Linked DNA regions of Homo sapiens. The protein of the gene in region 2 purifies or fractionates together with the protein of the main gene of each other region. This does not show direct contact. Each region holds a gene or a part of one and is shown on either strand. Other genes may lie near its edges.

Region 1 (3,652 bases), on a different chromosome or scaffold from region 2:
CCTGGCCCATTTTAGCAATTTTTAATGAAAGTTGTATATAAGATACCTTATTCCTGCATCTTCTCAATTGCTTCTTTTTTATATTTGCCCTTCCTTCCCTACTTAGGAAGATTTGTTTGGCCTTCCATTCAAGGATCTTTTGTGGTCTTTGTCTAGTTTTAGCCTGGTGATGGCCATGTGCTGGTGACGTGCACACGACGGTCCTGCCCTTAGCCTCCTCCTGTGCTCCTGTTCAGTATAGGTGGCACATTTCTTCCTATAAACCTGGACTGCTTTGCCAATTTGCTGGCCCGTATAGTGTCTTTGTGCAACCTCAACTTCCTCATCCTTTCAGATGGGCATGGATGGAACTGTGCTTGTAGCAGACTCCAGAATGTGCTTCTGTCTCAGCTCTTTGGAACGAGAGAAAGACATAATCTTCCTACGAATGTGGGAAGGTGCATTGAAATGACTTTTATGATTCTTGCCTCAGTCAAAAGTCACAAAGGGACTGCACTTCCTCTTGGTCACTGCCACTCTGCTCATGGCCACAAAAGGGAAGAGTGGATTACACATTTGTATACAAATCACCACACTGAGTGAAGTGGATGCTTTTGTGAATGTTTTCAGTTATTCACTTCATCAGCTCTAGTTTCATGACCATATAAAAATTGCATCTTAGCAGGTGTAAGGGGAAAGGAAACACCCCTTCTTTCTTCTCTTACTTTCTTTTGTTTTGTTTTGTTTTGTTTTTTTGCCAGCGGTTAAGGAGACCTGTAGTTTGAGTCAAGTGCTAGAATTCCAGTATTTAGCACCAAGAGGTAAAACAGACCTAGAAAGCTCAAAACTTGCAAATTGTAAAGAAAAAGACCTGCAGCAGTTTGTACCTACATTGTTTAAGCTGAGATTTGAAGGCTGAAATGTAGTGTTAGCCACGAGAAGCTGAGGTGAGAGATGCCCATTCCTGGTCAGGGAGCGAGACCCGTGAAGGCCTTAGGGTACAGGGGATGGAGGATGTCAGAACTGAGAGCATCCAGCGGGCAGGAGGGAGAGCCCAAGGTGAGGCGAAGCTTGACAACGCAGGCCCCACCTGGGCTCGCTGGCTAAAGTTAGGGATTCCGGGGTCTGCTCCAAGCACGGTGGAAAGCCCCTGAAGAGTTTTAGCAGGGGACTGGCTCAGGCAGCTCTGCATAATCAATAGGCCCTAGAACCTTACTTTTATAGTCAGCAGGCAATAGCGCTGCTCAAAGACTTCAGTAAACTTCTGCCTACGTAGCACATTGCACAAAGATGACACTCTGTAAATCTGAAATACCCAACGGCAAGTAATTATTACCCCTTGTTTGGCCATAAAAGAATTCTAGGACCCAAAACATATGAACAGGCAGTTTGGGGGTTTTATTTTTATTTTTGTTTTTGAGACAGGGTCTCACTTTGTCACCCAGGCTTGAGTGTAGTGGCATGATCATGGCTCACTGCAGCCTCAACCCCCCAGGCTCAAGCAATCCTCCTGCCTCAGCCTGCTGAGTAGCTGGGACCACAGGCACATGCCACCATACCTGGCTAATTTTTTAAAATTTTTTGTAGAGACAGGGGCTCTCACTATGTTGCCCAGGCTGGTCTTGAACTCTTGGCCTCAAGTGATCCTCCTACTCAGCCTCCCACAGTGCTGGGATTACAGGCATGAGCCACTGCGTTTGGCCATGAATGGGCAGTTTTTTAACTTCCTTTTACTTCTGAAGTAAAGCGTTGCTCTAGGAAGTACCACTCTCACCTGTTCTAGTAGGGATAAGGCTACCTGGTTTTTTATTCCTATTGTTATATGGTACCAAGAAATGGTGTTATATTTTAGCCTCAGTTTGCCCTCTTGAAATGGAGACTAAAGTGTTCCCAGGACTCCTGTTACCTCACTAGAGCATTAGGTATCAAGGACACTGGGTTCCAGGTCAAGTCAGAGAGGCTTCAGCCAGCATCCTGCCTGGAACAGTGTTTCAACCTAAGATCTGCCCTTGGGCCTCACCCAGTTTCTTCTGGCCCTTCTAGGGATGCCAAGGCCGCTGTGGTGACTGGCATGGAGCTGAAGGACATGAGCTCAGAACAGCTGGATGAGATCTTAGCCAACTACCAGGAGATTGTCTTTGCCCGGACATCCCCCCAGCAGAAGCTGATCATTGTGGAGGGCTGTCAGAGGCAGGTGGGTGGACAGCAGTGTCCAGAGGACTGACAGGCCCATCACTGTCCATGGGCAAGTGCAGAGGTCTGGATCTCACATCAGGCTGTGGTGCCTTTGAAACTTCAAGAGAGAGTTCTTGGCTCATCCCCATCACCTGACCTCTCCAACCTCTCAGGTGGGCTGGCCCCTGTCCTCCTTTGAGACCCCCACCACATGTTCCCCGAAAGGCTCACCCCAGCTCTCTGCATTTTGTCATGAGAGCCCGGTGAAGCATTTGCCACTGTGGTAGTTGTGAGTAAAGAGAGATTTAAAATGCAAAGATTTAAAACAAAAAATGTGAAGACATAAGATACAAGACACCTGCGCATTAGGTTTTCCTCATTTGCACGTATCTTGTTTGGAGACCCTTGTTCCTGCTTCTAAGATTTCTCATCTTTATCTTTTCCCCTAAATGGGCCTTTCCGTTCAGCTATAATCATCCTCGCAACCTCAAGAGAAAGGGAAGTCTTGTTGCTCTTGCCAGGCCTGCAACCCACTGGGCCTGCTCACTCCCACTTTCTCCCTGGGTCCCCCGCCATAGGATGCTGTTGTTGCTGTGACCGGGGATGGAGTTAATGACTCTCCGGCTCTAAAGAAGGCAGACATTGGGATTGCCATGGGGATAGCAGGTTCTGATGCAGCCAAAAATGCAGCCGACATGGTCTTGCTGGACGACAACTTCGCATCCATCGTCACAGGGGTGGAGGAAGGTGAGTGAGTCTCAGGGGGTCTTCCCAAGGGCCAGGGTGGTCTGGGGGACTAGAAGTAAGTTCTGAAGGAGAAACCTCTCTGCCTAGGTCGCCTGATCTTTGACAACCTCAAGAAGACTATTGCTTATTCCCTGACCAAGAACATTGCCGAGCTGTGCCCCTTTCTGATCTACATCATTGTCGGGCTCCCCCTGCCCATTGGCACCATCACCATTCTGTTCATTGACTTGGGGACAGACATTGTAAGTGACACTGAAGGGAACAGGCTGTGATGCCTGCCCCAGGGGAGGTCAAGTTCAGGGTCGCTACCTTCAAGGGCCGGGGATGGACTAACTCAAGGCTTCTCAGCTTCCATGTGATGGGGCCTGTAGCTCTGCATTTCTCACAGGTTCTCAGGTGGTGCCCATTCTACCAGTCCACATGCCACACCTCAAAGCAAGGGACCAGAGGCATCTGCCAAATGTTTGGAAATTAAAAACACTCTATAGTGAGCTTTTTTTTCTTGAGACAGAGTTTCACTCCCATCACCTAGGCTAGAGTGCAGTGGTGCTATCTTGCCTCACTGCAACCTCCGCCTCCCAGGCTCAAGTGATTCTTCCACCTCAGCCTCCCAAGTAGTTGGGACTACAGGCTTGTGCCACCACACCTGGCTAATTTTTGTATTTTTAGTAGAGATGGGGTTTCCTGGCCTCAAGTGATCCACCTGCCTCGGCCTCCCAAAGTGCTGGGATTACAGGCATGAGTCACTGCA
Region 2 (3,652 bases):
TTTGTTTGACAGTTTTTCGTTTTAACAAGTAGCCGATCATCAGCTTTCACCTGCAGATTTTTTTAATCACATTCAAAATGCTTTGCATTATGCTAAGTACCACAAGAAATACTGCAATTTATAATTACATTATGATGGTCCTTCATGCCAGCCTTCAAGCACTTGTCTGTATTTGGGTTAAGTGGACCTCAATCAAGCCAAAATTATGGACAAATTGTTACCATTACTTGGTGCTAGTCATCAACTATATATTGCAATTCAGGAAAGATCAGGAGATGAGAATTGATTGTTTCTTGTAATTCCCAAACTTAATTTTTTGTTGGGTCTACTTTTCCTGACATGTTTAGTTAATCTTAACACTCATGATTTATAATGATCATTAGAATCATGTGGGTGGTTTAAAAACATGTATTTGGGCCCCTCACCCTGAGACTCTTGTTTGTCTTGTCAGAGGTGGGGCTGAAGCTTCCCTAGGTGACTGTGATGTAAGCCTGATTAAGAACCACTCTTCTATGGCTGGGTTAGATAACTTTTGTCATTTAAATAACGCCATAAAACTCAATAGGCCACCAGGTGCCGGGTGCGGTGGCTCACGCCTATAATCCCAGCATTTTGGGAGGCCAAGGCAGGTGAGTCACTAGGTCAGGAGTTCAAGACCAGCCTGGGCAAGATGGCGAAACCCTGTCTCTACTAAAAATACAAAAATTAGCTGGGAGTGGTGGTGGGCACCTGTCATCCCAGCTACTCAGGAGGCTGAGGCAGGAGAATTGATTGAACCTGGGAGGTGGAGGTTGCAGTGAGCGTGCCACTGCACTCTAGCCTGGGTGACAGAGCAAGACTCCGTTTCAAAAAACCACTCTTCTATTCTCTAGGACCTAGTGGCTCTTTGTTCACAGTGGAGAATTGGGTAGACAAGCATTTGTCTAAGCATGTCAAATTTTGTGATGTGCTTTAGCTGAGTATTCATAAAAAAAAGTTTAATACCTGTACCAGTATTTAATCATTAGTTTTTTCACTTTCATGTTTTTTAAAAACTATTAAGTGTTATTGTCCAACCTAAGACTCACACACGGTCCTAGGTATCATGAGAAGTAACTATAAATAGGTTTACTTAATATGTTAGGTTTAGCCAACTTTATTGCAGTGTTACAGCTTTCCACTAAGATTTTTAATGAATTGGGCTTGTTTTATGGACTAAGTTTGAGCCTTTGATGCATTAAAAAGCACTGATAAGGACTCATGATAAATTATAGCCAATTGTTTGGCTAGTTTGGAGGGCAGAAACCAGTGGCTTTTGGGTTGCATCCTGGCCTTCAGACATACTTTGTTTGGGCCATAAAATGCGTGCATACTTGTATGCATGGCTTGAAAATTAAGAGTTTTTAATTTAATTTTATTATTTTTTGAGACAGAGCTTCGCTGTATTGCCCAGGCTGGAGTGCAGTGGTGTGATCCCGGCTCACTGCAACCTCTAGCACCTAGATTCAAGCAATTCTTGTGCCTCAGCCTCCCAAGCACCTGGGACTACAGGCACACACCACCACACCCAGCTGATTTATTTTTTTTATTATTATTTTTTTTTGAGATAGTCTCACTCTGTCGCCCAGGTTGGAGCGCAGTGGCATGATCTCGACTCACTGCAACCTCCGCCTCCTGTGTTCAAGTGATTTTCCTGCCTCCGCCTCCCAAGTAGCTGGGATTACAGGCACCCTCCACCTGTAATGCCTGGCTAATTTTTTATTTTTTAGTAGAGATGGGGTTTCGTCATGTTGGCCAGGCTGGTCTTGAACTCCTGACCTCCGGTGATCCGCCCACCTTGGCCTCCCAAAGTGCTGGGATTATAGGCTGAGCCACTGCACCCAGCCAGTTTTTTGTATTTTTAGTAGAGATGGGGTTTTGCCATGACCTCAGCCTCCAAAATGCTGGGATTACAGGCGTGAGCCACCACGCCTGGCCAATTTTTTGTATTTTTAATAGAGACGGGGTTTCACCATGTTGGCCAGGCTGGTCTTGAACTCTTGGCCTCAAGTGATCCACCTGCCTTGGCTTCCCAAAGTGCTGGGATTACAGGCGTGAACCACTGCGCCCAGCCTAAGAGTTTTTAAATAAAATTTGTCTGTCTGCTCTTAAAATCAGATTTGGCAAATTTTTTCCCTTTTAATATACCAATTATATTTGACCCTAAACTAGGATACATTTTGCTAGACATGTACAGACACACCACTGACATCATTGGGAGTGCCAGACTTGCCAGACTTCATCGTGCTCACTGTAAAGTTTATAGGAACCTACTGTGGGTAACAGCAGTTCTGATGAGGTTGTCTTGTCCCTTGTGTCCAGGGGAGTTTGAAGGATCTTTGGTGAGATCAGCTTGGGTTATGCAGTAAGTTCTGGCCAACTCACGGGGAGTTCCTGCGTTGTTCTGGCCATACCATATCTTGTCTTTTTCTCTTTCGCTTTCCTACTGCTTTCAAACACAATAGAACAAACTCCTGCTTGTGGCAAATAATTATGTCTGAGAAAAAGGAGTATATTGGGAGATAGGTCTTTCAAGAGGAAACATACTGTTATGTATAGGTTCTGTTGGCTTCTCTTAGCTTATAGCTAAAATTTTTCCCATTTAATTTGAGGTAATCCGTGTATCTGGATTCAAGATAGAAACTAGCATTTGACATTTCTGTGCTTACGAATATTATAATTTAGGTTATCTTTAAGAAATACATTTTTCCTTCATTAATACTCAGATCTATATTCTAGGTACTAACTTGGTTAAGAAAGCTATATATGCCATGGTTGAGGGAGACTGTGATGAGGTAAGTCTTTAAAAATGTTTAATATTTTTTATCTGGGCATTATTCTTTCTGGGTATTTTTAATAAATATTTTATAATTTATTGCAGATTTCATTGCAGTGTTACTATACAAATGCAGCTTGTGGGGAAAATTATATTCCATTTAAAAACACATGAATTTTTGACCTAGAACAAATTTTAAAATGGAGCTAAAATTTCTTCAAAATGTGTGGGGGGAATCTTAGACATTTTCAGTACACAATTTTGGTATTCAGAGGCTTTATCATCAGTTATTTAAGGTAGCTCTTATTACAGACTCTGTTATAATTTGCTTACATATTGGCCTTAGTTTCTGACAATGGGAAACTGTCAGTCTATATGGAGGACATTTCACACTTGAAAATAATCTTTTCAGAATTAAATAATGACAATGTTGGCTAGGGGGAAGACAACCACTTTTAAAGAGTAGAGCTATCTGCGCATTAACATAAGAGCATTTTCTCTCTTCAGCTTGTTTGTAAGGTCTGATGGCAGATATTTCTTTGTATCCTACTGCACGGTGTTTCTACATATAGTAGGTGCATGATAAATATTGGTGATGATTGGGAATGTTAACATTTACTGTTGCACAGTGTGGAAGGGAACAAGTATAAACTAGAGAAGTATAGATGTCTTTAACATAGCAGTGGTGACTAAGGAGGAGCAAAGTTGTACTAGTACTTTTATGAGTAATAGAAGTAGCAATTGTCTTTATTATTAGAGGTCAGATGTGCCTTAGAGAATTCTCAAAATATGTGAAATTGGGTAAGTTTTTTTAAAAGGTTGACCTTAATAAATAATTTGTTTAGTGACTTAAAAGAA

What was found.
Region 1: the proteins of NAA30 (region 2) and ATP12A purify together in Homo sapiens (affinity purification with mass spectrometry; one large-scale study listed by BioGRID and IntAct). This does not show direct contact.

What each region holds. Positions count from the first base shown.
Region 1 is NC_000013.11:24,704,291-24,707,942, forward strand, and holds part of ATP12A (potassium-transporting ATPase alpha chain 2), read left to right. Parts: intron 1-2,022; coding exon 2,023-2,173; intron 2,174-2,732; coding exon 2,733-2,901; intron 2,902-2,988; coding exon 2,989-3,143; intron 3,144-3,652. UniProt on the Homo sapiens protein: The catalytic subunit of a H(+)/K(+) ATPase and/or Na(+)/K(+) ATPase pump which transports K(+) ions in exchange for Na(+) and/or H(+) ions across the apical membrane of epithelial cells.
Region 2 is NC_000014.9:57,397,071-57,400,722, forward strand, and holds part of NAA30 (N-alpha-acetyltransferase 30), read left to right. Parts: intron 1-2,757; coding exon 2,758-2,813; intron 2,814-3,652. UniProt on the Homo sapiens protein: Catalytic subunit of the N-terminal acetyltransferase C (NatC) complex. Catalyzes acetylation of the N-terminal methionine residues of peptides beginning with Met-Leu-Ala and Met-Leu-Gly.